Homo sapiens: one gene and its partner. The protein of the gene in region 2 interacts with the protein of the main gene of each other region in a pairwise test. Each region holds a gene or a part of one and is shown on either strand. Other genes may lie near its edges.

Region 1 (5,252 bases), on a different chromosome or scaffold from region 2:
AGAGGGTGAGAGGCAATAGCAGAGTCATCAGGGGCCGGGCACAGTGGCTCATGCCAGTAATCACGGGAATTTGGGAGGCCAAGGTGGGTGGATCACCTGAGGTCAGGAGTTTGAGACCAGCCTGGCCAACATGGTGAAACCCCATCTCTCCTAAAAACACAAAAATAACCTGGAGTGATGGTGGACGCCTGTAATCCCAGCTACTCAGGAGGCTGAGGCAGGAGGGATCACTTGAACCAGGGAGGCGGAGGTTGCTGTGAGCTGAGATCATGCCAGTGCACTCCAGCCTGGGCAACAGAGCAAGACTCCATCTCAAAAAAAGAAAAAAACAAAACAAAACAAAACAAATGAAAAACAGTTATCAGGGGCCACGGCATGTAGGGCCACGTGGGCAACGCAAGGACATCATCATTTATTCCAAATGAGACAGGTGCTATAGGAGGGTGCTGAGCAAGGAAGCGACATAATCTATCATAGCAATAATTTATTTTTTTTGAGACAGAGTTTTGCTCTGTTGCCCAGGCTGGAGTGTGGTGGCATGATCTCGGCTCACTGCAACCTCCGCCTCCTGGGTTCAAGCAATTCTCCTGCCTCAGCCTCCCAAGTAGCTGAGATTACAGGTACATGCCACCACACCTGGCTAATTTTTGTATTTTTAGTAGAGATGGGGTTTCACCATGTTAGCCAGGCTGGTGTCGAACTCCTGACCTCAGGTGATCCACCTGCCTCAGCCTCCCAAAGTGCTGGGATTACAGGCGTGAGCCACCATGTCGGGCCACAATAATATTATTACTATATTATTACTATTTTTTGAGACAGGGTCTGGCTCTGTAGCCCAGACTGGACTGCAGCGGCACTTTCCCAGCTCACTGCAGCCTCCATCTCCTGGGCTCAAGCAACCCTCCACCTCACCCTCCCAAGTAGCTAGGACTACAGGTGCACACCATCATGCCTGATTAATTATTATTATTATTATTATTATTATTATTATTTTGGAGGTCATCTGGTTTCACCATGTTGCCCATGCTGGTCTTGAATTCTGGGGCTTAAGCAACCTGCCTTGTCTCAGCCTCTCAAACTGCTGGGATTACAGGCATGATTGCCACTGTGCCTGACAATAATAATAATAATAAAATTATTATTATTGGAAGCCACTGTTTCTTGAACATTTTGTGTTTTGTGTCAACTTTTTTTTTTTTTTTAGGGACAGATATTGCTCTGTCACTCAGGCTGGAATGCAATGGCACTATCTTGGCTCACTGCAGCCTCGAACTCCTGGGCTCAAGTGGTCCTCCCACCTCAGCCTCCTGAGTACGTGGGACTACAGGTGTGCACCACCACACCTGGCAAATTTATATATATATATTTTTTTTAGAGACAGGGTCTCGCCATCTTGCCAACGCTGGAGTGCAGTGGTGCAATCACGGCTCACTGCAGCCTCAAACTCTGTGCTCAAGTGATCCTCCCACCTCTGCCCCCTGAGTAGCTGGGACTACAGGCAGTGGCCACCACGCAGCTTTAAACACTGTATCACTGAAACCTTGTTTTATTTTATTTTATTTATTTTTTTTTTTGAGACGGAGTCTCACTCTGCTACCCAGGCTGGAGTGCAGTGGCGCTATTTTGGCTCACTGCAACCTCTGCTTCCTGGGTTCAAGCATTACTCCTGCCACAAGCCTCCCGAGTAGCTGGGATTACAGGCGTGCACCACCATGCCCGGGGCTAATTTTTTGTATTTTTAGTAGAGACGGGGTTTCACCATGTTGGTCAGGCTGGTTTGGAATTCCTGACCTCAAGTGGTCTGCCTGCCACGGCCTCCCAAAGTGCTAGGATTACAGGCATGAGCCACCGTGCCTGACCTCACTGAAACCTTATAATAACTGTCTGAATTTGACACTATTGTTATATTTATTCTACAGATAAGGCACAGAGAAGTTAAGTAATTTACCTAAGATCACTCAGCTAAGTAGGTAAAATTTTTTTTTTTGAGACAGAGTCTCGCTCTGTCATCCAGGCTGGAGTGCAGTGACGCAATCTCGGCTCACTGCAACCTCCGCCTCCAGGGTTCAAGCAATTCTCCCGCCTCAGCCTCCTGAGTAGCTGGGACTACAGGCACCCGCCACCATGCCCAACTAATTTGTGTATTTTTAGTAGATACGGGGTTTCATCATATTGGCCAGGCTGGTCTCGAACTCCTGACCTTGTGATCCGCCCACCTCAGCCTCCCAAAGTGCTGGGATTGCAGGCATGAGCCACCGCGCCCAGCCCTAAGTAGGTAAATTTCAAAGTGTGTTAGTCCCCGCTGCAGAACCCCATGCCCTAGAATATTACCATCTCCAAATCTTGGGCTCTGGAGAGCTGGCAGGCAGCACAGCAAGTGGTCCTGAGCAGCCCCGGCCTCCATGACTGTGGGTGTCAGTTGCAGCTGGCTGTGCCTATTTCCTCATCGGGGAAACAAGAGTCATTGAGGTGAACCTACCTCTGGTTTTGGGAGTCCTTGAGGAGTTAAGATTTGTCCAGCACGTGGCACACAGGCTCCGGTAGACAAAGCTGTGGGTAGCACAGGACCCAGGCAGGAGTCCCCACCCCCCCACCCCCACAATGTCAGAGTGACCTGGCCCTGAGGCTCTCTGCTGACTATTATGGGTTGGCTGGCACTGCTCAGCACTCCAGCTGGTGTTGAGGCAACAGGAAGGACAGAGAGGAAGTTGGGGCACTCCCCTCCCCCATGCCAGGTAGCAGTGAAGAGTCCAGGCCACTTGGTGTGTGTATTCGGAGTCTGGCATTCCACTTTCGTATTATTTTTATCCCTAGAGTAAAAGGTGTGCAGAATTTAGCCAGGTGCAGTGGCTCACACCTGTAATCCCAGTACATTGGGAGGCTGAGTTGAGGAGGAAGGATCGCTTGAGGCCAAGAGTTCAAGACCAGCCTAGGCAACACAGTGAGACCCTCTGTCTCTACAAAAAATTTAAAAATTAGCCAGGCATAGTGGTTCGTGCCTGCAATCCCAACCTTTTCTAAGACTGGGGTGGAAGATCACATGAGCCCAGGAGTTTGAGGCTGCAGTTAGCCATGATCGCGCCACTGCACTCCAGCCTGAGCAACAGAGTGAGACCCTGTCCCAAGAAAGAAAGAAAAAGAAAGAAAGAAAGAAAGAAAGGAAGGAAGGAAGGAAGGAAGGAAGGAAGGAAGGAAGGAAGGAAGGAAGGAAGGAAAGAAAGAAAGAAAGAGTACAGCATTTAAAAACTGAACCCCCCCTAGCCGGGCACAGTGGCTCACACCTGTAATCCCAGCACTTTGGGAGGCCGAGGTGGGCGGATCACTTGAGGCCAGGAGTTCAAGACCAGCCTGAGCAACATGGTGAAACCTGGTCTCTACTAAAAATACAAAAATCAGCCAGGCATGGTTGTGGGCTCCTGTAATTCCAGCTACTCGGGAGACTGAGGCAAGAGAATCGCTGGAACCCGGGAGGCAGAGGTTGCAGTGAGCCAAGATCATGCCACTGCACTCCAGCCTGGGCGACAACAGCGAGACTGCATCATAAAAAACAAACAAACAAACAACAACAACAAAAACCCTCAAATTCCTACCAGCTGTGTGGCCTTGGGCAAGTCACCTAAACTATCTGTGCCTCAGTAAAATGGGAATAATAATATTCCTGCCTTAGGGGGTGTTGTAAGAATTCAACAAGTTAGAAGGGTAGAGCTGAGTGTATAGCGCTGGTTTTCAGTGGGTGTCATACGTAGGCTAGCTGCTGTTATCACTGTCCACACGCATCCTCTCACCCCGCAAAGACTCCACCCTTCCTGGCCCTTGTTGATTACAATCCAGAAAACGAAAACTTTCTTTTTTTTTTTTTTTTTTTTTTTTTTTTTTTGAGACGGAGTATCACTCTGTCGCCCAGGCTGGAGTGCAGTGGTGCGATCTCGGCTCACTGCAAGCTCCACCTCCCGGGTTCGCATGATTCTCCTGCCTCAGTCTCCCGAGTAGCTGGGACTACAGGCGCCCGCTACCACTTCCGGCTAATTTTTTGTATTTTTAGTAGAGACAGGGTTTCACCGTGTTAGCCAGGATGGTCTCAATCTCCTGACCTCATGATCCGCCCACCTCGGCCTCCCAAAGTGCTGGGATTACAGGCGTGAGTCAACATGCCCAGCCCAATCCAGGAAACTTTCTGTGCATATAATTTGCCCAGCTGTAAGCCCAAAGCAATGGTATCGTAGATGGCATTTCCTTTGTAACGTCTTAACCAGAAATGGGAGCTTTCAACATACGTTGTTCCATTTCTTCATCTTTTCCACTTAACGTGCCCGATATCTGTTTTCCTGTCTATCTGTACAGATATCAACCCCATTCGTCCTCAAAGCATCAAAAACAGTCCACTGTCTGCCCAAGTGGTGCTTATTAACTAAAGGCCATTCAATAACAATGGTAAGGAGAATAATGAGAAACAGGGCCAGGTGCAGAAGCTCACACCTGTAATCCCAACGCTTTGGGAGTCCTAGGCAGACGGATCACTTGAGGTCAGGAGTTTGAGACCAGCCTGGCCAACATGATAAAATCTCATCTCTGCTAAAGATTTAAAAAAAAAAAAAAATTAGCTGGGCGTGGGGGCGAGTGCCTGTAATCTCAGCTACTCAGAAGGCCGAGGCAGGAGAATCCCTTGAAGCTGGGAGGTGGAGGTTGCAGTCAGCTGAGATCACACCACTGCACTCCAGCATGGGTGACAGAGTGAGACTCCATCTCAAAAAAAAAAAAATTGGATTTGGCTTAGATGATTTTGTCTTGCTGTTGGGTAATGTAAATGTTCTGAACACATTTGAGGTAGGCTACGCCCGTGAGGTCAAGGCTGCAGTGAGCCAAGATCGCGCCACTGCACTCCAGCCTGGACAACAGAGTGAGACCCTGTCTCAAAAAAAAAAAGTAGGCTATGATGTTCAGTAAGCTAGGTGTATTAAATCCAATTTGATTTACAATATTTTCAACTTATGTTGAAAATGTTGGGGGCTTTTGTTTTGTGTTTTCGTCTTGTTCAGTCACCCAAGCTGAGTTCAGTGGTTCAACCTCGGCTCACCACAGCCTCTACCTCCTAGGCTCAACTGATCCTCCTGCCTCAGCCTCTGGAGTAGCTGGGACTACGGGTGCACGCCATCATGCCCAGCTAATTTTTTTTTTTTTTTCTGTATGGACAGCCCTTACTCTGTTGCCCAGGCTGATCTCAAACTCCTGGGCTCAAGAAATCCTCCCACCTC
Region 2 (5,497 bases):
ATAGTGGCACACACCTGTAATCCCAGTTACTCAGGAGGCTGAGGTAGAAGAATCGCTTGAACCCAGGAGGAGGAGGAGGTTGCAATGAGCCAAGATTGTGCCACTGCACTCCAGCCTTGGCGACAGAGCGAGACTCCATCTCAAAAAAAAGAAAAAGTAAATTATTTTCAATCTAGAATTCTATATTCAGCCAAACCACTAGTCAAATGAAAGGACAGAATAAAGATATCTTCAGACATGCACGTTCTCAAGGGAATTTTTCCCTCTGTGCAACCTTTCCCAGGAAGCTAAACAAACAAAAGGATGAAGCAGGAAAGAGAAGACACAGGGTCAAGGGAACAGGGGATCCAACACAGGAGGGAGACAAAGGGGTTCCCAGGACGAACAGAAAGGGAGGCCCCAGGATGGCACCCGTGGTACCAGCAGGCGAGTGGCTGGGCGGGATTGGAGTGCAGGACAGGAGAGAAGTTTCTCGGGGGGATAAAGGAACTGACAGGTTTGACCACCCTGAATTATCTTATTTTCTTTCTTTTATATTTTTTCGGAGACAGAGTCTTCTTCTTTTTCCCAGGCTGGTGAGGTCACAGCTCAGCACAGCCTTGACCGCCCAGGCTCAAGCAATCCTCCAGCCTTAGCCTCCCAAGTAGCTGGGACTACAGGGGCAAACCACCACATCCAGATAATTTTTGTTTTAATTTTTTAGAGACGTGGGTCTCACTATGTTGCTTAGGCTATTCTGGAACTCCTGAGCTCAAGCGATCCACCCGTCTGGGCCTCCCAAAGTGCTAGGATTACAGGTGTGGGCCACCATGCCCAGCCCACACTGGAATTACATTTGAGGCTAGGGGACGTGTAGGAAAATGTAGCTACGGTAGGCACAGAAAACTAAGTAAGCAAGGGCAGGAGAGGGGGCCAGGATCCAGGAAGAGCCAAAATCATACAAGAAAAGAAACAATGTTATGACCCTGCCTGGATTAGAAGTGAACACTATGTACATGATCGTCACAATCCACAACCGAGCACACGGATTGAACAGGAAGATTGGGCGGCAGGGTGAAAGGTTGCTCAGCGGGAGTATACAAAAGCCAAATCTCCCTGAGCCGCAGCAGGCCATGAATAGGTACGGCCTAAAACCAGTGCACAGAGAGGTAGCAGTACAGTATAAGCAAATCCCTTGGAAATATGGAAGTAAACTCCAGAGGAAACAGCCCAGACAGAGCCTTCTGAGAAAGGGAAGGGGGCAGGCCCCAGGGGAGAGGAGGGGCAGGACTGCTGTTTTGTTTTATGATTTTAGCACTATTTAACCTTTTTTTTTTTTAACTGTCAGCACATACTAATTTAAGAAAATAGTTATTAAAATATAAAATAAATCTATACTGAGAAGAAGGTCCTCTTGTTGCTTCTTGCGTCCTAAGAATCCACCCTCATCACTCCCAGCCGCAGGCACCTACACACACAGCCACAGGCACACTCACACTTACACATGCTCATCACAGACACCCACAAACAGCCCACAGTGACAGACAGGTACACATACATAATATACAAAATCATCTGACACAGGTGCGAACCCAGCGTCCATGACACACACACCCATTCCCAGAAACGCACAATTATATTAATAGATTCACCCCCAGACACACCGAGGCTTCCAAGAGCCTCCCGGAAACCCTGAGAGAAGAGCACTCCCTCCAGGCCTCTCCTCCCTGTGCCAGCACCCCAGAACTGCCCCAGGCCAAGGAGGTTGTCTCCAGGAGCTGCACCCTAATTGCTTTCTCTACTCAGCCCCCTGCTGAGTGCCCAGCCCTTAGGCTAAGCAGCCATTAATCCTCTTGCGCCCCAGTCTGTAGATGGGGCAGAAATGGGGTGGGGAAGGGCCCCATCTGGCAGCTGAGATGTGACTCATAAGGCCACTGTCAGCTTTTTCTTCCCTAAGTCATGGGAGAGTCCAGTTTCAGGAATGCTGTGGTCAGGCTGTGCATCCTGATACAATCCATTTGATGTCTCTGGGTCCAGGAGGGAGTAGGCAGCCTATGAAACGCTGAGATGCTGTGATTTTATGACCCAGTCTGGGCCCTGCTTCCATCCCCTCCCCGGGGATTCTTCTCTCCACCCTGTCCTCCGGGGCCAACCCCAAATGATATGTGATTTGCATGTAGGACAAGCACACCTGGGGCAGCTGGTGAGACCTCCCCCACCCCCACTTCGCTCCCCCTCCATGTTCCTCCAGCACTCACCACCACCCTGGTCCTGTTATCTGGCAGCGTGTCCATGGCCAGGGTGCCCCCACCCAGGTCCTGGCTCAGCTGGGTCCTGTCCGGCTCTGACACATGCCCAGGGCTCTCTCGGGCTCTCCGGTTCCAGCCCCGCACGGTCCCTTTGGCAGCCCATCCAGAGCCTGGGCCCTCATCGTGACCTGGGAGAAGGGGACAGAAACCTGAGTGCCAGCAGTCCGGAATGAAGATCAGGAGGGGAATCCAGCCCAGTTATTCTGCAAGGGCCCCAACACCATGCCACTGTAGAATTTGCAGACACTTGACTGACTACCAGGACAGGAGACACCCAATGTGTACTGAGAGTCACGTGCCCAGCTCCAGGCCAAGCACTTCGCACATATCCTTTTAATCCTCATGCCAGCTCTCCGCAGTAGTTAGGATGTTCTCCATTTTGCAAACAAGAATCAGAGGCTCAGAGGTTAAAAGTCACGCAGTGGGTTAGGCATGCAGGTAAGTTTCAAACCCAAGCTGATCTGCCTCCAAAGGGTGATTATTCTCAACCTCAGCTATACACTGGAGTCACCTGGACAGCTTCAAAAGTTCCTGATGTCTGGGTCCCACCCTAGAGATCTCTTGTAACTGGTCTATGGTGTAGCCTGGGCATTCAATTTCTTTTTCTTTTTCTTTTTTTGAAATGGAGTCTCGCTCTGTCACCCAGGCTGGAGTGCAGTGGCCCGAGCTCCGCTCCCTGCAAGCTCCGCCTCCAGGGTTCACGCCATTCTCCTGCCTCAGCCTCCCGAGTAGCTGGGACTACAGGCGCCCGCTACCGCGCCCAGCTAATTTTTTGTATTTTTAATAGAGACGAGGTTTCACCGTGTTAGCCAGGATGGTCTCAATCTCCTGACCTCGTGATCCACCCGTCTCGGCCTCCCAAAGTGCTGGGATTACAGGCGTGAGCCACCGCGCCTAGCCTCGATTTCTTAAAAGAGCCTCAGGGGAGATTTTGAGGAGTCTTGGACTTAACTCTGCAGGCAAGGGTGAGAACCATTGCCGTTGAGCCTTCCAAACCAGTTTCTTATTTCTCTGGCAGAAATGGCACATAATCCTATTTCCCAGTGGGGTCAGGGGACTAGAAGCCAGAGTTCTTTTCGTTCAGGGCTTCTCAACCTCGGTACTATTGACATTTGGACTGGATAATTCCTTTTCCAATTTTTTTATTGTGGCAAAATACACATAACAAAATTTGCCATCTAACCATTTCCAAGTGTACAATTCAGTAACATTAAATACATTCCTAATGTTGTATGACCATCACCACCATCTATCTGCATAACTCTTTTCACCTTGTAAAACTAAAATTCTGTACCCGTTAAATAATAACTCCCTATTCACCCCTGTTATTTTATTTTATTTAAGAGATGGGGCCTTGCTCTGTCACCCAGGCTGGGGAGTAGTGGTGCGATCATAGCTCACTGCAGCCTCCAACTGCTGGGCTCATGCGATCCTCCCACCTCAGCTTCCTAAGTAGCTGGGACTATAGGCATGCGCCACCATGCCCAGCTAATCTTTTTACTTTTTATAGAGACAGGGTCTCACTATTTTGTTCAGGGTGGTTGGTCTTGAATTCCTGGTCTCAAGCAATTTTCCTGCCTTGGCTCCCAAGGTGCTGGGATTACAGATATGAGCCACAGCGCGCAGCCTGTATCTATGATTTTGACTACTCTAAGTATCTCATATAAATGGCATCATACTATATTTGTCTTTTTGTGATTGGCTTATTTCACTTAGCATAATAAATTCAAGGTTCATTCATGTCGTAGCATATGGCAGAATTGACTTCCTTTTGAAGGCTGAATAATATTCCATTGTGTGGATATACCACATTTTGCTAACCCACTCAACTATCAATGGATGTCTGTTTTGCTTCCACGTTTTAGCTATTGTGAACAATGCTGCTACAAACATGGGTGTACAAATATCTCTTTGAGACCTGGCCTTCAATTCTTTTGGGTATATACCCAGAAGCGGAATTGCTGGATTGTATGGTAATTCTATTTCTAATTTTTTGAGGAATTGTCATACTGTTTTCCATATAAAATGTTTTCCATGTAAAATGACTGGACCATTTTACATTCCCACCAACCGTGCACATGGGTTCCAATCTCTCCACATTCTTGCCAATACTTGTTATTTTCTGTTTTTTTTATAGTAGCCATCCTAACAGGTATGAGGTTATATCTCATCGTTTTTATAAATTGGCATTTCCCTGATGATTAGTGATGCCGAACATCTTTTCATATGCTTGTGGGCCATTTGTATATCTTCTTTGGAGAAATGTCTATTTAAGTCTTTTTCCTGTTTTTAAATTGGATTGTTGGTTGGACTGGATAATTCATTGTTATGCGGGAACTGTCCAGTGCTCTGTAAGATGTTTAGCAGCCGCAGCCTTGGCCCCTGCTCACTAAATGCCAGTAGCACCACGCTCCTCCCCATCCCAAGCTGTGACAATGAAAAACGTCTCCAAACATTGCCAAATATCCCCTGGGGAATAAAATTAACCCCCCCTTGCCCCATTGAGGGAGGGGTAATTTTTTACTGTTTTACTCCTATCACTACCTAGATACTGTCTAGGATGGCAAATAGGTTTCATATCACATGCCATCTGCAATCCATTCGTGACAGCCAGAGGCACTCCAACTGAGAATGCAAAGGCTCCTCTTGTATTTAGCAGGAAGGACTGTGAAGATCAATAAGCAATGTCTGCCATGGGCACAGGATTGGAAAGTGACTACACACAGGCCATTTCGCGGCCATGCGAACCTCCATTTCTGGAGGTTGCGAAATGGCTTTAGGTTCCATGATCTCCTCTCCAGTTCCCTCTAGGTTGTTAAATGCATGCTTTTTTTGAGACAGGGTCTCACTCTAGCATGCAGGCTGGAGTGCAGTGGCACAATCACAGCTCACTGTACGCTTGACCTCTCAGGCTCAAGCAATCCTCCCACCTCAGCCTTCTGAGTAGCTGGTACTACAGTTGCATGCCACCACACCCGGCTAGTTATTATTATTTTATTTTGTATTTTTCGTAGAGGCTGGGTTTCACCATGTTGCCTACACTGGCCTTGAACTCCTGGGCTCTAGCGGTCCTTCCACCTTGGCCTCCCAAAGTGGTGGGATTATAAGCGTGAGCCACTGCACCAGGTCTGTTAAATTAGTTCTAACAAAAGGCCGGGCGTGGTGGCTCACACCTATAATCCTAGCACTTTGGGAGGCTGAGGTGGGTG

The links. The genes of interacting proteins can lie anywhere in the genome.
Region 1: the proteins of PLXDC1 (region 2) and C5AR2 interact in a two-hybrid assay, tested with the Homo sapiens proteins (one large-scale study listed by BioGRID and IntAct).

The regions. Positions count from the first base shown.
Region 1 is NC_000019.10:47,334,397-47,339,648, reverse strand, and holds part of C5AR2 (C5a anaphylatoxin chemotactic receptor 2), read right to left. Parts: intron 2,555-5,252; exon of another isoform or gene 2,480-2,554; intron 1-2,479.
Region 2 is NC_000017.11:39,137,417-39,142,913, forward strand, and holds part of PLXDC1 (plexin domain-containing protein 1 precursor), read right to left. Parts: intron 2,417-5,497; coding exon 2,238-2,416; intron 1-2,237. UniProt on the Homo sapiens protein: Plays a critical role in endothelial cell capillary morphogenesis.